4 linked regions of the Homo sapiens genome follow. The protein of the gene in region 3 purifies or fractionates together with the protein of the main gene of each other region. This does not show direct contact. Each region holds a gene or a part of one and is shown on either strand. Other genes may lie near its edges.

What was found.
Region 1: the proteins of DHX8 (region 3) and NUDCD1 purify together in Homo sapiens (affinity purification with mass spectrometry; 5 studies listed by BioGRID and IntAct, with this or other methods). This does not show direct contact.
Region 2: the proteins of DHX8 (region 3) and AQR purify together in Homo sapiens (affinity purification with mass spectrometry; 4 studies listed by BioGRID and IntAct, with this or other methods). This does not show direct contact.
Region 4: the proteins of DHX8 (region 3) and XAB2 purify together in Homo sapiens (affinity purification with mass spectrometry; 4 studies listed by BioGRID and IntAct, with this or other methods). This does not show direct contact.

The regions. Positions count from the first base shown.
Region 1 is NC_000008.11:109,331,088-109,338,710, forward strand, and holds the start of NUDCD1 (nudC domain-containing protein 1), read right to left. Parts: upstream 3,001-7,623; 5' UTR 2,924-3,000; coding exon 2,806-2,923; intron 1-2,805. Other genes in the region: transcription and mRNA export factor ENY2, read left to right, coding at 3,382-3,387, 5,041-5,117.
Region 2 is NC_000015.10:34,851,249-34,854,766, forward strand, and holds the end of AQR (RNA helicase aquarius), read right to left. Parts: 3' UTR 534-3,518; downstream 1-533.
Region 3 is NC_000017.11:43,521,965-43,526,217, reverse strand, and holds the end of DHX8 (ATP-dependent RNA helicase DHX8), read right to left. Parts: intron 4,172-4,253; coding exon 3,992-4,171; intron 2,591-3,991; coding exon 2,371-2,590; 3' UTR 548-2,370; downstream 1-547.
Region 4 is NC_000019.10:7,619,503-7,626,559, reverse strand, and holds the end of XAB2 (pre-mRNA-splicing factor SYF1), read left to right. Parts: intron 1-289; coding exon 290-424; intron 425-515; coding exon 516-680; intron 681-2,114; coding exon 2,115-2,259; intron 2,260-2,677; coding exon 2,678-2,829; intron 2,830-3,270; coding exon 3,271-3,390; intron 3,391-3,666; coding exon 3,667-3,798; intron 3,799-3,898; coding exon 3,899-4,030; intron 4,031-4,115; coding exon 4,116-4,229; intron 4,230-5,262; coding exon 5,263-5,425; intron 5,426-5,523; coding exon 5,524-5,714; intron 5,715-5,890; coding exon 5,891-6,013; intron 6,014-6,113; coding exon 6,114-6,285; intron 6,286-6,484; coding exon 6,485-6,614; intron 6,615-6,703; coding exon 6,704-6,813; intron 6,814-6,912; coding exon 6,913-6,974; 3' UTR 6,975-7,035; downstream 7,036-7,057. UniProt on the Homo sapiens protein: Involved in pre-mRNA splicing as component of the spliceosome. Involved in transcription-coupled repair (TCR), transcription and pre-mRNA splicing.

The sequences.
Region 1 (7,623 bases), on a different chromosome or scaffold from region 3:
ATCCCAGCACTTTGGGAGGCCGAGGCAGGTGGATCGCGAGGTCAGGAGTTCAAGACCAGCTTGGCCAAGATAGTAAAACTCCGTCTCTAATACAAAAATTAGCTGGGCTTGGTGGCGGGCACTTGTAATCCCAGCTACTCCAGAGGCTGGGGCAGAGAACTGCTTGAACCCGGGAGGCGGAAGTTGCAGTGAGCTGAGATCGCGCCACTGCACTCCAGCCTCAACGACAGAGACTCCGTCTCAAAAAACAAAACAAAAACAAAAAGAAACAAACAAAAATTAGCTGGGCATGGTGGCGGGCGCCTGTAATCCCAACTACTCGGGAGGCTGAGGCAGGAGAATCGCCTGAACCCGGAAGGCAGAGGTTGCAATGAGACGAGATCACACTACTACAGTCCAGCCTCCGCAATAGAGCAAGACTCAGACTCAAAAAAAAAAAAAAAAAAAAAAATCTTCAAATGGCACCTGATATCCTGCAGCTGTACATCCCAAACACAGAATCTAAGATTAACGCTGATGAAATGAGTACGGAACAAGGACAACTTTGTGAATTTTTTCTAAAGTTAAAGTATTCAATGGATTGTTTATTGTGAGATTTTGCTTCCTGCTTTTTTGGTGTTAAAATATCCTTTTGTTTATGAAAAGATAGATGAGTAAATGATAGTTTTTAAGAAACATCTCCACCTAGTAAACAGAAAAGTTGGCAGAACTACAGCAGCTGAGTTTTATTTTATATTGTAATGGCTCAATACAAAAATGTCAGGGAAACACTGAATGACCGGAAATCCAAGAAATCCAAAAGGCAAACAAGGCCCTCACTGATTTATTTCCTCTCACTTTCCCAGACGTTTTGCTCCAGCAATATAAGAGTGCAAGGATGTCCAGCATACAACCTACTAATTATTTCCCTTTCCTCATGCTTTCCCATGAATGGAATGACCTCAACAATTTCTTCTCTTCTTCATATACTCATTTTATTGAATACATCCTATGTGCCAAGCACTAGATATAGGGTAGTGAACAAAAGAAAAACATCACTGTTTTCAAGGAACTCATAGTCTAGTGGAGGAAACAGACAACAAATCAAGATAGAATTTAAAAGGCCGATAAGTACGTCTTATGGAGAATGCAATGACGAAGCCCAAAAGTGAAGGCAGGAAGGCTAGTCAGGAGGCTACTAGAGTTCAGGTAAGAGATAACTCTGATTTGGATTAGGGTGGAGGCCTAGAGATATCAAAATGTGGAGCTGACCGGACTTGCTACCAAGCAGACAGTGGCTAAAAGAAATAAACCCCAAATGACTCTGGCACAAGTGTCTCTTGGTACCAACCTGGGCTAGTCTAGTCGGCTAAAGGATAAGAGACCACACGGAGAAAAGTCAAGAGGAGACCATGTGAAAGAATCTTAAACAAGCTTATAGTCTGAGACCCTACCCCCACCCTCCAAACATATGAGGAAGTCCAGCCAAATGAGCAGAGCTTCCCAGCAGATCCATTACTGAACAAGGATGCATCAATGAGCCCAACTAGGACTAGAAGAACCACTCAGCTGACCCGTAGACTTGTGAGCAATAATAACTGCTTCTTGTTTTGAGACACTGAATTTTGGCTTCACTTTCTAATGCACTAACTAAACATGGTGATACCATCTACTGACATGGGGTGACTGGAAGAAACACGGTGGCAAAGAGGAAAAGGAAAAAAATAAAAAGAAAAATCAAGCTTATCCTCTCTCATCCTAGTCAACTCTTAACCTACCCTTCAAAGCTCAACTTAGATATTAACTCCTCCAAGACGCCTTCCCAGATCCCCAGACTAGTTTAGGAAAGATATTCAAGTACTACCATTGTATTTTGTACATATCCCTATCACTGCCTTCCCATATTGTTTTACAATTATCTGTTTACAATTTTCTTCCTAACTAGCTAATAGTCCTCTTTTGTTACGGAAGGTGTCTTGTTCATTTTGATATTATCAGGACGTAACACAAAACAGGTACTCGGTAAATATTTCTGAATTTAATAAATCAATTAGCATAAACTTATTTTATACTTTAATGTCTGTTATTATAATTAACTGTAGATCACTATTTCTCAAAGTGTGATCTCTGAAAACATGCATCAGAATCAGCAGGGGTGTGAATTTTAAAATGCAGATCTCTGGGCTCTATCATAACGAAAATGCCGTTAAGTTGTAAAAACAAGAGTAAGGATATTCTACCAGCTACAGATAAAGCAAGGAGTAGCAGTGTGGGAGTAAATCCACTTTTCCTCACTATCTTCTAGAGATGTTCTCTACCAGAGTTCTTAATGTGCCAGGAACTGAGTAATTAAAAATGCTATGACTGGAATGTAGTTTCTCTTCTAAGAAACGGCTCTCGGTCAGAGGAAACAGGAACTGGGGGTCCTCCAAGGAGGTGTGGTTTCTCAACGCACACGTTCACAAGCGATGCTCCAGGAGGAAGGAATGTTCTCAGCGTCCCCCGAAACAGAAGCCAGGCTGTGGACACACAGCAGCCAGAGCCCCAGGCACTACCCGCACGCCAGCCCTCAGACCTCAGACCTCAGAGGCTGGGCTGCTGACGGAGGGGGCCCAGGGTCCCGTTACCGAAGAGCGCGCGAAGGCGGCTCCCACCGGGTTCTGGGATGGGCATCATTCCCCAGAAGCAGCGGCCTCCGTGAGTCCACGCAAGCCGCCACGGTGGCTTCGCTTGCCAGTCAGAAAGAAAGAAATTGCGGGAAGGGTCAGGCCGGAGGCAGCCGAAAGGGGAAAGGAACGGAGTACGAAGGGCGCCGCCGCTTCCCACCTGCGTCAAGCTCCAGCTGGTAACAAGGCAGCGGCTCAAGAGAGAGCTTGTAACCCTCGAAGCGGGGATCCAACAGAGGTCTCTTCACCCGTAGGGAGCAATTAGCCGCCACCTCCATCGCTTTCCAGGGCCGCAGCGTGAGAATTAATAAAGCCCTTGTTGAAAGGTCCGCGCTTCACGCCTCGCACAGAGACTGGGAAGCGGCGTGGTTCCCATCCCAGAAAACACTGCGGTGCGAACTGCCTTCTGGGAAATGTAGTGTCCGTGAAAAAGTTGAGACTGTTGCATGCTGGGCTATGTAGTTCTCCTGGTACTTAACGCGCGCGCGACGGCAAGGTCTGAACTCTGTTACCCAGAGGCCCTAGCAACCAGGAGGCGGCCCGCGCTGGTTAAATTCTCACATTATAGGCAGGGTGGCGAGACCCCGCCCCGGAAATGCGTGTTCTAGCTTTCTGTGTGCTTAGGTGCCCGAGCTACTGAGGGTCTAAGTCCGGGCAGCCGAAGAGTGTGGTAGGTAACGGTCCTCAGCGCAAGGGTCATTTCGTCGCTGGGAAGGGACGGCCCTCGCCCGCGGTGATGGTGGTGAGCTATGCCCGTGGTCCTCAGGGCCGGGACCCGGGCCCAGCCCAGGCTCCTTTCGATGTACTGTCTTTCGTTAGCGTCCCCGACCCGCGCTCGCGGGCCTGTAGGGCTCTCCGACAGGGCGTGCTACCGGAGTTGGCCTGAAACCAGTCCTCGCTTTGTTTTCTGGCTCCTCCTCTCCCGCCTCTCCCGCTGTCTCCGCCCTGTTCTATTTTCCCTAAGAATGTCTGAACTGGGAGGGATACCCTAGCGCCCTTGTTTTACCAGTGAGAAAACTGAGGCCTTTAAGAATTAAGTGACTTGTCCAAGGTCACTATCCGTATTTTAGGAGCCAAGACGAGATCAAGTTCAATATTCCAGGAGTGGTACTGACTAGACCTTGTAGTTATTTTGAAAATGTTAGCCTCCAATTACAAAAGCAAGCATTTCCTAGTTCTCACTCAACTTCTCCTTTTCCCTGTTCCTCTCAAAAAAGAAAAAAAAAATCAACTCTGGTAACTCATTGCCAGTCTGAATTTTCAATAGGCCAGATGGAAGACAACAAAAGTAATCTCAAGTTAGTGACAGATTAGGTGGGAAAACGTTAGTTTACGCCAAGTTTTATTTAATTTAAACTTTTAAGTGGCTTTAACGCTTTCAAAACCTAACTTTCCTCTTCTTTCAACATCATTTTGGTTTGGGTTGTCTGTTTTTACTGACAATTGAGGACTTTGTAAGTTAGGAATTAGTTTGAGATTTGTTTTCTTCTTATCCCACCAGCAGTGTGTGTGTAAACACACACATCCACACACTTAGGTTTAGCAGTTGTAATTGTGGGTTCATCCTAGTGAAGAGTAAAGCAAAACACTTAGAGCCTTATCTAGTAATTTTATTTTTTTTGATTAATTAATTTTTTTTTTTTTTTTTGAGACAGAGTCTTGCCCTGTCACCCAGGCTGGAGTGCAGCAGCGCAATGTCGGCTCACTGCAACCTCTGTCTCCTGGGTTCAAGCGATTCTCCTGCCTCAGCCTCCTGAGTAGCTGGGATTACAGACACCTGCCACCAAGCCCAGCTTATTTTTCTATTTTTAGTAGAGACGGGGTTTCACCATCTTGGTCAGGCTGGTCTTGAACTCCTGACCTCGTGATCCACCTGCCTGGGCCTCCCAAAGTGCTGGGATTACAGGTGTGACCCACTGTGCCCGGCCTGGTAATTTTATTTTTTTACTAATAGTATTTAATCTTTTTTTGATGTTTAGTATGTATGACTTCTCCCAATTTTTGGATGCAGTCTCTGCAGAAGTGATCGGCAGTTATGTTCAGTTTTGGAGCTCCTAGGGTCAAAGTACTTGAGTTCAAATTTTGCCTTTCCACTTTCTATCTCTGTGCCTCAGTTTCCTCATCAGTAAAATACAGATTATTTTATTAATATAAATATGTAACAATACGTTCTGGGAATTAAATGTGATGTTTAAAAAAAAGCAAACCCACACTGCATTAGCCCAGTGCCAAGCACATAAGTGTTTAATAAAGAGTAATGATATTATTAACACACTTGAAATGTATCACCCCTTCAGTTAATAGAATGGTAAACATGTTAGGATGCCTGCCTAGAGGATTTAGCAGAAAATGCTTTGTAAATGTTCTATATCTGAAAGTACATGTTGATGTCCAGGTTAGCAAGATGAACAAAGATGCGCAGATGAGAGCAGCGATTAACCAAAAGTTGATAGAAACTGGAGAAAGAGAACGGTAAGTAATAGATTGTGTTAATAAATTACATTTCACCGCCTTTAATAGTTAGCTTGTAAGAATCTAAACAAGAAATGAAACATGTCACTGGAAAGAATTACAATTGAGATTATAAAAGTTTCTATTCCGAACATCTGGAAAAAATAATTTAGGTTTGTTAAGTATTGCAGGACTTGGAGGGAAGTGGTGATGTAGAAAGATGAGCAAGATATGGCTCTTAAAGAGTAATTTGATGGAGAAGAAAAAGTACATACCTGAATTACAACTGGAGACATAATGTTACCTGGGTTTTAACAGGGAGACAATGTTGTGGAACCAGCTTCATTTACCAAGCTCTCAACCTTGGAGCAGCAAGTGCTGTTTCCACTCTCTAAAACATTCTTCCTTCTCTTCCTTTTTAGCTAATTCTAGCTCAACTATCAGGTCTAATTTATATATTGTCTCTTCAAGGAATGTTTTTAAGTCCCAAATACCTTGTTCCATCATAGCATTTAATCAACATTGTGTTCTAACAATCTACTTGGCTAGTTTGTATCCTCCAGTATAATCTAAGTTCTTTAACACCAAAAACAACATTGTATACCCAGCATCTAATGCTTTGTTTGGTTCATAATTGGCCACGTAAATATTTGCAGAATCAACAGGTTTAGAAGTACAAAGAAGGGGCTGAGGAATCAAGAAAGGCTCCCAGAGGCAGGGTTATAAAGTGAGTAAGACAAATATGTATAAGGAAGAGGCAAATATGTATAAGGAAGAGGGGGAATCTTTCAACTCAACCCGGGCATTCAGGTGATCATGTAAGATCTCACACAATAAGAAAAAGAGGTGCATCTGTTGCTGACTTTATTTTTGGATGATGGGAGTCATTTAAAGTTTTAAGAAAGGAAATGACTAGATCACATTTACACTTTAGGAATCTTACTCTGTTGGTGTGGAGCTTGGACTTGAAGGGGACAAGATAGATGGCAGAAAAATGAGGTAGAAGATTATATAGGGTTGAAAATGGAAAACTCCAAAAATTGGAAGGAGACCTTAGAATTTTAATAAAATGTAGAAACAGCAACCCTCAAAATGAGGAAGGAGGCATCGATAACTGCCTTGGGTAGCTTTAGAGGATAGTACTGCTGGTAAGGAGTACGGATTGTATGTTGTTTTTTTTTTTTGTTGTTTGTTTTTGATTCATGCAGCTTCAAGTTACTGAGTTTCTATCATATGCCATGCCCTGTTAAGGTGTTGGAGGTAACAGTAGTAGACAAAAATGGAGACTTTGTTTTCACAGAGCTTGCATTCTAATGGGAGGAGACAGATAAAACTGTGTAATAATGTCAGATGGTGATGAGCACTAGAGGAACAATAAAGCAGAAAATAAAGAGGTGTAATATTTTAGATAGAAAAAACAAAGAAGAAATCAGAAGGAGGCCGTGCATAGTGGCTCACGCCTGTAATCCCAGCACTTTGGGAGGCTGAGGCTGGCAGATCACAAGGTCAGGAGATTGAGACTATCCTGGCTAACATGGTGAAACCCCATCTCTACTGAAAATACAAAAATTAGCCATGCATGGTGATGGGCTGTAGTCCCAGCTACTCAGGAGGCTGAGGCAGGTGAATCGCTTGAACTCGGGAGGCGGAGGTTGCGGTGAGCTGAGATCGCGCCACTTCACTCCAGCCTGGGTGATAAGAGTGAAACTCCGTCTCAAAAAAAAAAAAATCAGAAGGATATGAGGGTGAGCAGGGACTCTTTAAGTTCCTGAGATAGGAGCTTGCCTTTCATTTTTGAGGAGCACAGGGATGCTAGGGAGACTGAGTAAATTGGGTGAGGGAGAGTGGAGATTAAGTCAGTGGCATAGCTGGGGAGAAGGCAGATCATGAAGGATCATGTAGGCTGTAATAAAGTCTTGGAGTTTTATTCTGAGTAAATTGGGAAGGCACTGGAGGTTTTTGAGCAGCAGGAGAAGAACTAAGTGTACAAGGGAAGAAGCAGGGAGACAACCTAGAATGCTATGGTAATATTCTAGAGAAGAGATGATGGCTTGAACTAGAGTAGTAATGGCGGAGATAGTGAGAAAGGTGAATTCTAGGTATATGTTTTAAATTGAACCCAATAGGATTTGCTCATAAATTGGATGTGTAGTGTTAACAAGGCAGCTGAGTGGAAGGATACTACAGAGATTCCTAGTCTGAGGAACCAGAAGAATGGAATTGCCATTCTCAGAAGAAGAACAAACAGGATGAATTGGTAGAAAATCAAAAGTTGGATTTTGGCCCTATTAAGATTGAAAGACCTAATTAAATATTAAGATGAGAATGTCACATAGTGGATGTCTAGGGATAGTGAAAGTGGTTTGCAGGGAAAGAGAATTTGTTTGGGATGTGACATTTTTAACCTGAGAAGTTAAATGATTTAGGTTGAGGATTGAAGATTTGTAAAAGTGGATATGGCAAAAGGATAAGAAAATATTTTATTGCACCTGTGATGCCATTAGTTGCATATACACTGCCACTTTTT
Region 2 (3,518 bases), on a different chromosome or scaffold from region 3:
CAACTGAACTAGAAACCAGATGGAAAAAACTAAGCAACCAACCAACCAACCAATCAAAAATGGCCCAAATGAACCAGTGAACTAAAGTAGAAAAGGATCACTTCCCATCCAGAACTGTTTTTCGAAAAATGTCAATAAATTCAGCTCTTAAAAGAGCTTTTTATATTAAACCAGGCATCTTTCAAAGAGAAGCAGCTACCTTTGAGGTTCTTGAACTTAGGTTGCAACACAAAGATAAGTATAATAGAGAGAGTGCACAATGTTAAATCAAAGGTAGAGGGGAAGAGGATTGTGGGGACAGTTATTCTGGAGATCAAGAAAGAATTCAGTATGCTTAATGCAAAGTAACTGCTGGGGTCCTTGTGTGTTAAATATTCTTATGCGAGGAAACTGTCTTCATGTTTTATATTTGCCTTCATTTTCTTTTATTATTTCCAGACCACCTCTATTGGTTATGCTAAGTAATCCTTTTCTCTTTTTGGAGTTTAAACTTTTTAAGGAAACAAAAACTAAAGAACAGAAAGCCAGACACATTGGAAATACAAACTCTTCTTTTACTGCATAAGAAATGAGAAGAAAAACTTAGTGTGAAATTCTGGAGTCTAAAATTAAAATGTAAACAGAGAATGCTCAGTGACCTTTTCTTAGGAGGCTCACATGAAGGAATGTCATGGTACATTGACCAAACTTTTATTCATTTGCATTTTCAGGATGTTGCGATTAATACCACATGACACTCAATAAATTACACTACGACATTTTGTACAAATCACTTCACTTCTGGTTTCCTCTTCGGCTGTTACTTCACCCTCTGGTTACCTGTAGGGAAAAAAAATGTATTTTGGGGCTTTATCTTTAAAGGGCGATTCACAGTTCTAGCCAATGTAAAGATATTGGTTCCCAAGGAAATAGCTACCTAAGTTATGTTTTTTTTTTTTTTTTGAAGGAGTTTTTGCTCGTCGCCCAGGCTGGAGTACAGTGGCGCCATCTCAGCTCACTGCAACCTCCCCATCCCGGGTTCAAGTGATTCTCCTGCCTCAGCCTCCACAGTAGCTAGGACTACAGGTGCCTGCCACCATGGCTGGCTAATTTTTGTCTTTTTAGTAGAGACGGGGTTTCACCATGTTGGGCCGGATGATCTCGATCTCCTGACCTCAGGTGATCCGCCCGCCTGGGCCTCCCAAAGTGCTGGGATTACAGGCGTGAGCCACTGCACCCGGCTCGTGTTCTAAGGAAATAGCTACCTAAGGTATCTTATTAAAACAAATGAACAAAAAGTTTCCCAAACTGTGTTCTAAGGAAATAGCTACCTATCTTATTAAAAAAAAACAAAAACAAAGTTTTATGCTCTAATAAGTTTGGGAAATGCTAGGTTAAACAAAGCTAAACATGATTCTTTCCAGTGGGACATCTGAGAGTCTTTAATTAGCTAACAGTGCATTGTGATTCTGCAAAGGAGGAACAATAATTCACTGTTTCCCAAACTTATCTGACCATAGAACATATTTCTCAGAGTATTTTTCAAGAGTAGTATTTTCTGTAATATATGATGAAAAATAATCGTATCGGCCATCTTTGTACATAAGGTCAAAATGTCAGGCAGCCCTGAAATAAACGCAAGCCAAAAGGTAGAGAGATAAGTGAATAAAGCTGGCACACTGTCAGTCCGGAGTACCATGCTGCATTCTGAGTCAAGCTCCAGGAAACTGAGCTAGGGTTTGTCTCTAAGAAGAAAAACTGGAGCGTCCAAAGCTTCTGGATTCCATTTAATTAAAACCCTTTTAAATTAAATCCTTGTAACTGAAGAGTATCGGTGGATGAAGAAAAAATAGTCTCACATGTCTTCATTTCCATCCTTGGCTCAGTACAGCTCCAGTTCCATTATTCTTAAACATCTATTAACATGATTGCTAAATAATTACACAGGCTAACTGCCAAGCATTTTTCACAGGAAGCAAGGCACTGCTCTTCTGGCTTATGCAAAAGGGTCACTGTTTTTTTTTTTTTTTTAACTTTATCTTGTTTTGATTGAAGAAACATCTCTAAAAATACCATCTGAGTGCAAGATAAAAAGGAAATAGCAATTCAAGGCACAAAGCTAAGCACATGCAACAATATAGATGATTTGGGGGTGGGACAGTACAGAATTCAGAACTGATAGAAGTTATCAGCTCCATATTTCAGAAAGACCTAATGTCTTCCTTCTGCTTATACTGTTCTGACAGAATTTTAATTTTGGCAGAGATCACTCTCGATGTTATGATGTACTGATTCAGAGGTCCCAAATCAGTAACCTGATCCTAGATAGATCCTCAAAGGTCAACTGCCACTAGGTGTCCCCTTCTTGATCATTCTTCATGCTGCCTGGATTGGGGCATGGCTAAGCACTCAAGTCAAAGGATTAGTTGGCAATATCCTACATTGTCAACAAAGCTTTGAAGAAAAACAGAGACAGAAACTGGTATTTACTAAGTACCTAGGTGATAAATTATTTTCATAAACATTACCCTATAAAACAGACAACTCTCCTGTCCCAAATCCAAACAGATCTTTTTCCTTTATTTACAGATAAAGAAAATGGGCTTAGAGAGGTTATAAAATTTGTCTAAGGTCTAACCAAATGCTGATAAGCAAATTAGGTACAACTCTGAGCCAGGTCTCGATGAGTCCAAAGTGTGTTTTATAATATCTTGCTGTCTCTTGATCATTACAAAATTTCATTTGTTTACAGGAGCACAAATGGCCTATTTATGCCTTTTCTCTCAGCATCTAGCAAAACATCTCAACTTTTATTACACCAACTTTGGGAGTCTTGATGATGTTTAAATCTTCTCATTCATTTGCCTAAATCAATAGAGCTATTTATCCTCAACTGTTGGCAATGAACTTTCTTAACTCAGAATTTTGAAAAAAAAAAAAAAAAAAGAAGAAGAAATTCTAAATACTTGAATTGCTTCATTTCATGCTCATTCTTTTGGGCATGGCTCTTTTTGGTTTTCTTTACAAAGAGATTCTAAAATCATGACACATTTAGATATGAAAAATAGGATGGAGAGCAATGGGAACACTAATCTGAAATAGTCACATGGCTAGAGTACCTGTGTCTGTAGTAATCCCAAACTATATAGAAAACTCTTGAATTTATTAAGCAATCCCTCATGTGTGCTTGATTGAAAAAATAAACAAAGCAGTGCCGTAGAACTGTAGACTTGGATTCTACCCCCACTCTTCCATAGTTGCCACCCTGGTTAAGTCTCTCTGATTGTTTCCTCATTATTTAAAATAAGTACAGCTCTTAAATTCCTTCAAAAATTCCCAAGATTCTACAGTCAACTGCCACTCACTTGCCTTTCCAATGAATAAACCGTTTAAAAGAATTCAAATCCCACCACCTTTACCCTTTCTAAATTCTTTTGACAAGGACAAAGGACTTACCCATCCATCTTCCACCTAAATTTGCTTTTTAGTGATAGAAAAACCAAGCAGCAAAGAAAAAAGTATGGTCACTCATCTAGGCA
Region 3 (4,253 bases):
CTGGTTCAAGGAAGAGAAACAAGGGCTCCATTGTGTGAGAGCAGCAGGCAAGCTCCCCTTCTGCATCTGGACAGGACCCCCCCCTTCTCCCTCAGAGCAGGCTCAGCTCAGCTGCTGACATTGCTTTCCTGATGGTCAAAAGGTCAGAACCCAGCTATGTTGTCATAGCAGAGAAGTGACCTCAGCTCTAGCGTAGAGAGATGGTCAAGGAACACCCACAGAATGGGGATCCTTCTTTTTCCTCCACCTGAGCCAGAAAAGATAACGAACCCTGCTGTCTCTTATCCTTAGCCCATTCAACATCCCTTTTCAACCTCAGCTTGAAACCCAACCCTCCCTCCCCAGGTGTCAACATTGTCAGTGCTGGGCACTCAGTCAGGACAGGCTGGGCCACTATATCCAGGAGTGTTTCTGAATGGGGAAAATTTAGGCTGGAATTAGGACTGGGAGCCAGGTGTGGTGGCATGCACCTGTAGTCCCAGCTACTCAGGAGGCTGAGGCAGGAAGATCACTTGAGCTCAGGAGTTTGATGCCAGCCTAGGCAAGATGGCAAGATCCTGTCTTAACAAAAACAAAAACAAAACGAGATTGGGGAGGTGGGTGCCCAGTCCCCGTTTCCCCTTTGGTTTCATTTGAGGTCCCTGTACTGTCTCTCCCCAGAAGGCCTTCAAGGTTAACACACAACAATGCCCTGCCCCTTGATTACTGGCCTGGGCTTACAAAGGCGAATACTCAGACAGAATCAGGAGGCACTCAGCTTAATGAAGGGGCAGGGATCTGCAGCCAGCAGATTGCCTGGCCTATATTCCTCTCCCTCGGACTCTTTCTGAATTGTCTTTAGGGTGTGGTTTGCTGCCCAGTGACAACATACATTCCTTTATATCCTGGAATGTTACATAGTCTCTCTTAGTGTCTGGCATACAGTTCTACAGTAGTTCTAGCATTTACATCACTTCAGAACTTACTAATAACATAAGGACAGGAGAAGCAGCAACGTAACAGGATGTGCCCAATCTCTCAGAAGCTTCTCTACAAGCACTACATCCAGACCAGCTTTCCGTAAGTTCCGAAACCTGGCCTGGCAAGACCTGCCTGATGTTCCGCCAGGTAAGGAGCCTCCTCAGTGCAGAGGACAGTGGCTCTCAACTGTAATCCCAGCGCTTTGGGAGGCAGAGGCAGGAGGATTGCTTGACGCCAGGGATTGGAGAGCAGCCTGGGCAGCACAGTGGGAACCCATCTCTATGGGAAGAAAAAAAAAAAACCCTCCTCAGGAGCTGTGAGGAGGGCACAAGGAGGTGGCTATTCTCCAAGCAAGTGCTAGGAAAAAACCACTAAGAACAAGCCCTGCAGCACAGATACTGGCAGCACAAACCAGCTGAGAGGAGAGGTGTTATGTTTGTTTTCTGTTTGGAGTGGGGAAAGGGAGGTTTTGACCATAAAATCCCTTTGTTAAAGTCCATCCAGGACCTCAGGGGAAAAAAATAAAAACAAAATAAAATAAAAGCTGTGTTGTTACTTAGTATGTTTCAAAAGGAAATGGGACATGCTGCACATTGCGAATGTGGGAGGTGGAGGGAGCAAGGGGAAACCTTCTGTATTTAATATGTGCCATCTGTAGCCACTCAGGCCTCCAGACTGAAGTGCTCTGTGGAGAGGACATGGTTGATCATCGGGTGATCCCCCAGCACGGCCCGGCTAGTGCTGATGCTGAAAGACAAGGCTGGAAGTCTGGGTTGTACGTCGTTTCCGAGCGCAAAGAGGCCCTGCGTTCTGGTTTCAGGGGATTCAGGGGATTCTCATCATGTGTGCCAGAGCACAGATACTAAATCTCCCTCACCCTGAGCCCAGGCCAATATCCTAACCTTTCGGCTAAAAGAAAACAGTCACAGAAAACCATTTTTGTTTCCTTAAGAAAATAAATATTTCCACGAGGTCAAGCCAAAGTACAGGGGCTGGAGACGGGGTGGGAAGTGGGGCAAACACTTTAGATGAGCACAGTAGCTCCTGCTAGCTGGGGCATCAGGGCACTCACCATGTCCCTGCACAAGATGCTCACCCACTCCACCTTCCCATCCTGGAGCTGCACAAATTGTCCCTTTCTTGAAGTTGATGCAATGTGTCTCTGTGTTAGATATGAGCTCCCAACTGGGCCCAAGGACTTGGGGTGATGGAGGCTGCAGGCTCTTGCCAAAGCCAGGTTTAAATCCCTGTTTCTATTTTACCAGCAGGGAAGAAATGAGAGTCGAGTTGAGAAAATGCTCAGTTAAGACAGTCAGTCACGGGACAGCTGTATCCTCAGGACCAGCCTGTCATCGATAAGTCCAAGCCCTGGCTACTGCTGCTGGAGAGGCAAAGGAACAATCTTGCCTTTCAGCGCCGTCGGAAAGCTCGAGATATTCTCCAGGCATTGGGTTCCTCATAGCGGTTGTACAAGGGTTCAAGACGCTGTTGCTTCTTCTGTTTGCTTAGCTTAGTTGGGTCTGAGACCTTGAAGAAGGCTGGGGCAAACTCCACAAGCCACCGAGGGTCGATGGTGGTAACTTCACGCATGTATTCCTTGGTGGTGAGCACCAGCTCATGGTACACCACCCTGAGGGGGGACAGAGATAGTACTCAAGCCTCTGGATATAGGCCCCACTCTACAGTCAACCTGGTCCCTAGTAGGCCTCAGCTGAGCTTACATTTTATACTATTACCTCTCCTGCCTGACACCTATAAGACTGCAGTCTGTTTATGACAGCCACACCCCAATACTGAAGCACCCGCACACCTCTAACCACAAGAAAGGTCTCAGGAGAATGTATTCTAGTCCTGGCTCTGGCTCTAACTAGTTAAGTGACATGGAGCCAATCACATCCCTTCTCTAATCTGTTTCTTGCTCTATAAAATGTGAGGATGTTTATTAGAATGTTTCCACAGAATTCTAGGGCTCTGAAGAGGGGCCTCACACTGCCACAAGGGATGGAGAAGGCCAAACATGCAAGGAGCCACATTTCTAACCCTTCTACTGTGATAACATGGTGGTTTTAAATCAGTTTTATATTAGGGTTCTAGATAGAGTCCAATTTTTTAAAAATGCTACTTTAAAACAAGTTTTTTTTTTTAAACTACATCACTAGGTAGTTGTTTTTTTCTTTCTTTTTTTTTTTTTTTTTGGGACGGAGTCTCACTCTGTCTCCCAGGCTGGAGTACAATGGCACAATCTCAGCTCACTGCAACCTCTGCCTCCCGGGTTCAAGCTATTCTCATGTCTCAGCCTCCCAAGTAGCTGGGATTACAGGTGCCTGCCACCACGCCTGGCTAACTTTGTATTTTTAGTAGAGACATGGTTTCACTATGTTGGTCAGGTTGGCCTGGAATTCCTGACCTCTGGTGATCCACCTGCCTCGGCCTCCCAAAGTGCTGGGATTACAGACGTGAGCCACCATGCCTAGCCCCTAGGTAGTTGGTTTTTTTTTTTTTTTTTTTTTGAGATGGAGTTTCGCTCTTGTTGCCCAGGCTGGAGTGCAATGGGTGATTTCGGCTCACTGCAACCTCCACCTCCTGGGTTCAAGCGATTGTCCTGTCTCAGCCTCCCAAGTAGCTGGGATTACAGGCATGCGCCACCATACCTGGCTAATTTTGTATTTTTAGTAGAGACAGGGTTTCTCCATGTTGGTCAGGCTGGTCTTGAACTCCCGACCTCGGCTGATCTGCCCACCTCAGCCTCCCAAAGTGCTGGGATTACAGGCATGAGCCACTGTGCCTGGCCACTACGTAGTTTTTTAAACCACAATTTTTTTTTTCAACTAGGTCTCACCCCTATGATTTTAATTCTCTCATAGGGTTTGATACATTGTGCCTAATTCAGGTTTCTGCTGCTCTAGAAAGGCAAGCAGTGTTATACTAGGACATACTGGGAGTAGTGAAGACACAATCACAAAATACCAGGAAATTTACAGGTTTTTCTCTGCCCAGAAAAGCCCCTAGACCCTGGGACATGTCCACCTACCATTCTGGCTGTCTGTTGAAGAGGGCACTGGAAGGATGGATATAGACCACCTGCTGGTCGATCAGTGTCCGGTAACCCTCCTGCGGGTCTTTCTTGGCAGCATTACGGAAGAACCCACTGCAGATGGCCTTCTGCACTCGGACTGTGGACTTGCCACAGGAAACAACATCCAGCTTGTGTCTATCAAGATAGGACAAAAGATATGAGCCCACTCAGCTTTCACAGGTCTATTTTCACAATGACAGTGCCCAACACATCCATC
Region 4 (7,057 bases), on a different chromosome or scaffold from region 3:
TGCGGGTCAAGGCTAACCCAAAAAGTCCACAGCTGGTCTAGTCAGGACTGAGGCTGGACCAGTGGAGCCAAGGCAGGACCCACAGGGGGTTGAGCCTAACCCAGTGGGGCCAAGGCTAGACCAGTAGGAACCGGGCTGGACCAGTGGGGCTGAGGCTGGTTTGACAGGGCTTGCTTTTGCCCAAGACACTCATAAATGGGTGGGGGGGGACGCCCCGAAGCCACTGAATCGGGAGGTGGGCGTAGCCCTGCCACCCCACTGACTGCCTGAGGGGTGGCTCGGTCCCCAGCTGAGTCCTGAGAGTGCAGAGGAGTACATTGAGTACCTCAAGTCAAGTGACCGGCTGGATGAGGCCGCCCAGCGCCTGGCCACCGTGGTGAACGACGAGCGTTTCGTGTCTAAGGCCGGCAAGTCCAACTACCAGGTGGGCCTGCCGGGAGCCGGCAACTGGGTGGGAGGGCCACCCCCTCCATGACTGAGCCTGAGACTCTCCCCCACTGCCCCATGCCCTGCAGCTGTGGCACGAGCTGTGCGACCTCATCTCCCAGAATCCGGACAAGGTACAGTCCCTCAATGTGGACGCCATCATCCGCGGGGGCCTCACCCGCTTCACCGACCAGCTGGGCAAGCTCTGGTGTTCTCTCGCCGACTACTACATCCGCAGCGGCCATTTCGAGAAGGTGCATGCTGGCACACGGGGCTCTGGGTTCGGGGCGGGGTCTCCCTCCGACACTCGGGGACACATGTTGACACATGCACAGGCAGAAAACATGCCATTTATGGCTGGGTGTGGTGGCTCACACCTGTCATCCCAGCACTTTGGGAGGCCGAGGCGGTAGGATCACTTGAGGTCAGCAGTTCAAGACCAGCCTGGCCAACATGGTGAAACCCCATCACTACTAAAAATACAAAAATTAGTCAGACATGGTGGTGCGCGCCTGTAATCCCAGCTACTCGGGAGGCTGAGGCAGGAGAATCGCTTGAACTTGGGAGGTGGAGGTTGCCGTGAGCTGCGATCGCGCCACGGAAGTCCAGCCTGGGTGGCAGAGCGAGACTCCATCTCAAAAAAAAAAAAAAAAAAAAAAAGTGCCATTTTTGACAGACATGCATATCCCTGCACACGATTACTATCCTGCTGAGGGTGGGGGAGCACTCCTGCCCGCAGGCACGTCAGCCTTGGAGTCAGCCACATTTGCGTTCAGGGTTCACCCTCTGGCTCTGCGGCCTTGGCCCCACTAAGGTGGGGTGTCTTCATTTGTAAAATCAGGGTGACAGTTACTGCCTGTCACCAATCAGCTCAGTGACGCAGGCACAGCACTGAGGAGGTACGTGGTGTGAGGGCCACTCCCTCAGGGGTTAGCTGACTGTGGCTCTTGGCAGGCAGTGGAGTGGCAAGCTCAGGGGATGGCCTGGGGGCAGGTGGGTGCAGAGGGGGCCAGAGCCGAGAGCGGGGAGGCTCAGGAACCCAGGGAAGATAGGTTGGGAGCCTCGAAAGCCAAACGGGCTGGCCATGCTCCTGGCTGGGGGAGCCGCCAGTGGGGTGTGGGCGGTATGCGCTTCGCAGCGCCCCTTCCAGGGGCACGTGTAGGCCAAGGCTGTCGGAGGCAGCAGGGCAAGACCCGTCAGGGCTGGGTAGAGAGAGGGGACCTGAGCTGGGGTGGGCGAGCCAGGTGGAGGACAGGCGGGCTGGGGAAGAGGGTCAGGCAAGCGAGAGGGACGCTTTGGAGCAAATTCTGAGGCCTCGGAGGATGAGCTGAGGCGAGGGTCCCTGCAGGGTGGACCCATAGGCGCTGGGGGGTTTTTGGCCACCTATTGGGTGCCAAGTGCTTCACACATGTGTCTCAGTCGAGCCCTGAGGTCACTGTGTGCAAAGGGCAGTCACCCAGTTTACTGAGGAGGTCCTGAAGCTCCCAAGACCACCCTGGCAGTGCAGGGCAGGGCGGGGGTGAGAAGGCTCCACGGAGGCTCTGTCCTGGGGTCACTACCCAGAGGTGCTGGATGCGTCACTACCCAGAAGGCCCCCAGGGGTTCCACATTGAGGCTGGTGCTAAGAGTGCTGCTGCCTGTCCCCTGCGCCACTTTCCTCTCACCTCCCCTTCCCTGGGTCCCCACAGGCTCGGGACGTGTACGAGGAGGCCATCCGGACAGTGATGACCGTGCGGGACTTCACACAGGTGTTTGACAGCTACGCCCAGTTCGAGGAGAGCATGATCGCTGCAAAGATGGAGACCGCCTCGGAGCTGGGGCGCGAGGAGGAGGGTGAGCCTCTGGGGGCCCCGGCTGGTGGGGAGAGAGCTGAGTGGACATTAGCGGTAGGGGCGGGACACATCTCAGGTGAGGCAGCCCTGGGAGGCTCAGCTGGGGGCCAGCAGGGAAGGAGGCTGAGTGGATGCAGGGGGTGTGGGGGTCTTGAAGGAGCCAGGAATGGGGACACTTCTCAGGCCTGGGCCAGAGCCTGGCAGGGCAGGAGGGCTAGGGGAACAGTGGGGGTAGGAGGGGGTATCCACAGTACCTGGGGCTGGGGGTGGGGCTCAGGTGGACACCCGAGCTGAGTGTCTAGGGCCCAGAGCACTTGGCTGGGGGCTGGAGCGGAGTGAGGGTGGGGAGTGGAGGCGGTGGCATCCGGGGACCTGCATCCTGGGTCTCCGCCCCTGACAAACATGTTCGCGGCTCCCAGATGATGTGGACCTGGAGCTGCGCCTGGCCCGCTTCGAGCAGCTCATCAGCCGGCGGCCCCTGCTCCTCAACAGCGTCTTGCTGCGCCAAAACCCACACCACGTGCACGAGTGGCACAAGCGTGTCGCCCTGCACCAGGGCCGCCCCCGGGAGGTACATGAAGCCTGCCCCAGTCCTACCCCTGAGGGCCAGTTTCCTGCAGAACTGGGGAGCCACCCACCTTCACCCATAATGTCACCTTCTAGGGGCCTGACTTTGCTTAGTAGGTCCAATTCCACCCCTGTTCTTGGGGTTCTCCTCCTGCCCGAGCCCCGCCCCTCAGAGCCACAGTCCCTCCTGGCCCCACCCCTTGGAGGGCCACAGCTCCCTCGTGGCCCCGCCCCTTGGAGGGTCACAGCTCTCTCCTGGCCCCGCCCCTTAGGGCCACAGCTCTCTCTTGGTCCTGACCATTGTCAAGGGCCATAGTTCGTTTCTGGCCTCTCCCGACAGGGGCCACAGCACCCTCCAGGCCCCACCCCTCAGAGCCACAGCTCTGCCCCGACCGTCATCTGCAGGGTCCTGAGTCCTATATGACCTCCTCCCTCCTGTCCCCAGATCATCAACACCTACACAGAGGCTGTGCAGACGGTGGACCCCTTCAAGGCCACAGGCAAGCCCCACACTCTGTGGGTGGCGTTTGCCAAGTTTTATGAGGACAACGGACAGCTGGACGATGTGAGCACCCTGTTGCGTGTGCCTGTGTGTTCATGCATGTGTGTGTGCTTGTATATGTGTGCATGTATGTGTGTGTACATATTTGTGCATGGATGTGTGCACGTGTGTGTGCATGTGCATTTGGGTGCATGCATATGTGCACGCATGTGTGTGCCTGTGTGTGTGCCTGTGTGTTTGTGCCTGTATGTTTGTGAGCATGGTCACCTTTCTGACCCTTGATGGTGGGAGCTGTCCAGGTGGGCAGGGTCTCAGCCTCGCCTCTGCCCGCCCCGGCAGGCCCGTGTCATCCTGGAGAAGGCCACCAAGGTGAACTTCAAGCAGGTGGATGACCTGGCAAGCGTGTGGTGTCAGTGCGGAGAGCTGGAGCTCCGACACGAGAACTACGATGAGGCCTTGCGGCTGCTGCGAGTGAGAACAGGCCCAGGCTGTGGGGTGGGGGCTGCAGGTTGTAGGGCAAGGGCCAGGGACAGCCCCTGAGCGCCTCCCCGGCCACTGTCTGCCCCTGCAGAAGGCCACGGCGCTGCCTGCCCGCCGGGCCGAGTACTTTGATGGTTCAGAGCCCGTGCAGAACCGCGTGTACAAGTCACTGAAGGTCTGGTCCATGCTCGCCGACCTGGAGGAGAGCCTCGGCACCTTCCAGGTGAGCTGCCTGTGGCTGGGGAGGGACGGGGCCCCGGACTCAGCTCCAGAACCAGCTCCAACCTTTCCCATCCCCACCCCTGCAGTCCACCAAGGCCGTGTACGACCGCATCCTGGACCTGCGTATCGCAACACCCCAGATCGTCATCAACTATGCCATGTTCCTGGAGGAGCACAAGTACTTCGAGGAGAGCTTCAAGGTGAGGGGCTAGGGTGGACCCAGAGGCCCCTGATGGCAGTGTCCCCTCCCCAGGGGTCCTCAGCAACTTACGAATCTGCTGGGGCTTGTGTGACACAGTATACAGACTGGGTGACTTAAACAACAAAGATTTAGCTTCTCCCCGTCCTGGAGGCTGGAAGTCCAGGATCGAGGCATGGGCAGGGCTGGTTCCTCCTGAGGCCTCTCTCCTTAGCTTACAGACAGCCGCCTTCTCCCTATGTCTTTGTGTGGCCTTCTCTTTGTGTGTGTCACTTTTGAAATTTCCTCTTCTTATAAAGGACATCAGTCATAATGGATTAGGTGGCCCCTAACGACCTCAGTTTAACTTAGTGATCTCATCTTCAAACGAATCTACTTTCTGAGGTACTGGGGGTTAAGATTTGAGCATATGAATGTTTTGAGGGGGGCACAGTTCATTCCATAGCAGGCACAGAATCCTACTTCCACGTGCACCCATGACTCATGGGGAGGGTGTTGGTGCCAGTGTGTGCGGGCTCTCCCTGCCCCGCTGCTCAGGAGACGGGTTGTGGGGTCCAGGGGGTGGGTTGCGTGTCCGTGGGAAGGCCATGTCCCGCGGCCGGAGCAGTCATGTTTGAGTGTGTGTTTCTATGGATCGTGTGGGCATTATACAGATACACAAATGGGGAGGTCGTACATGCATACGCGTGCTACTGCCTGCCCCTCTGTCAGGGGGTGCGGCCTTCTCCCTGGGGACAGGCAGCCAGCGTCAGCGGAGCTGGGGAGCCACCCACCTTCACCCATCATGTCACCTCCTATGGGGCCAGACTGTGCTTAGCAGGTCCCATTGCACCCCTGTTCTTGGGGTTCTCACAGAGGGAGACAGTGCAGAGGACAGACCCCCACAACTGCCATTAGGGACAGGGAGGCGTGGACAGGGAAGGGCCCCAAGGGAGTTCCTGGCAGGCTCCCTACAGACGCCACCCAAGGACATCCCGGGTGCCTGGTGGTCTCTATCTGCAGACTCTCACATGTGACTCTCCCTCTGGTAACAGGCGTACGAGCGCGGCATCTCGCTGTTCAAGTGGCCCAACGTGTCCGACATCTGGAGCACCTACCTGACCAAATTCATTGCCCGCTATGGGGGCCGCAAGCTGGAGCGGGCACGGGACCTGTTTGAACAGGCTCTGGACGGCTGCCCCCCAAAATATGCCAAGAGTGAGGCGGGCAGAGGGCATGGGGGGGGTGGCGGGCGGGCTGGGTTTCTGACTGGCCCCGGCTGACCGTGCTCCCCTCTCCCCGCCTACCCCGCCCAGCCTTGTACCTGCTGTACGCACAGCTGGAGGAGGAGTGGGGCCTGGCCCGGCATGCCATGGCCGTGTACGAGCGTGCCACCAGGGCCGTGGAGCCCGCCCAGCAGTATGACATGTTCAACATCTACATCAAGCGGGCGGCCGAGATCTATGGGGTCACCCACACCCGCGGCATCTACCAGAAGGCCATTGAGGTACCCACCGTGGGGGGCTGGGCCGGGGCCAGAGGTCCCTGAGCAGACGGAAGGGGTCCAGGCAGGTGGGAGGGGCTGAGGAGGAGCCTTCTGGAAGCACAGGGATGGCCATGGTGTGTTGGGAGCCCCCGAGCTACCCCGGCCTCACTCCCGGCCTCCCCAACCCCGGTGTCCAGGTGCTGTCGGACGAGCACGCGCGTGAGATGTGCCTGCGGTTTGCAGACATGGAGTGCAAGCTCGGGGAGATTGACCGCGCCCGGGCCATCTACAGCTTCTGCTCCCAGATCTGTGACCCCCGGGTAGGGCTGTGGGGAGGGACGGGTATCAGGGTTGGGGGCTGCGGCGGAGTCAGCCAGCTCACGGGCACACACACCCACCCCTGCCCTGCCCCCCACGCAGACGACCGGCGCGTTCTGGCAGACGTGGAAGGACTTTGAGGTCCGGCATGGCAATGAGGACACCATCAAGGAAATGCTGCGTATCCGGCGCAGCGTGCAGGCCACGTACAACACGCAGGTCAACTTCATGGCCTCGCAGATGCTCAAGGTCTCGGGCAGTGCCACGGGCACCGGTGAGCCGTCCCAGCTGGCTGAGTTCCTGATCCAGGGCATCTCAGCCCGGCCTGACCTGGGCTTTCCGGGTCTGGGAGCCTCGGATCCTGATGGCAATCTCCTTGAGGGCTGGGCCATCACCTGGGGGACTGGGATAGTGCAACGTCCGATGTGTGGGAGGGGCCCCCGTGGCGCTGACCCCCTGCTCCCACCCCCTAGTGTCTGACCTGGCCCCTGGGCAGAGTGGCATGGACGACATGAAGCTGCTGGAACAGCGGGCAGAGCAGCTGGCGGCTGAGGCGGAGCGTGACCAGCCCTTGCGCGCCCAGAGCAAGATCCTGTTCGTGAGGTGAGGGCGGATCCTTGGACGGGACAGGACTGGGACAGGTCCCAAGGGGGCCCGGGGTGGGGAACTGAGGCAGCATGGCCCGTCCCTAGGAGTGACGCCTCCCGGGAGGAGCTGGCAGAGCTGGCACAGCAGGTCAACCCCGAGGAGATCCAGCTGGGCGAGGACGAGGACGAGGACGAGATGGACCTGGAGCCCAACGGTGAGGGCCCGGCTGGGGCGGGGACGGTGGCATTACCAGGGTGGGCCTCGGGGGACAGGCCAACGCCAGGAGGGTGACTGGCTCCCGCCTTCCCCACAGAGGTTCGGCTGGAGCAGCAGAGCGTGCCAGCCGCAGTGTTTGGGAGCCTGAAGGAAGACTGACCCGTCCCTCCCCCATCCCCCCTCCCCACCCCCTCCCCAATACAGCTACGTTTGTACATCATGGTCTGAGCCTCCTTCCTGCT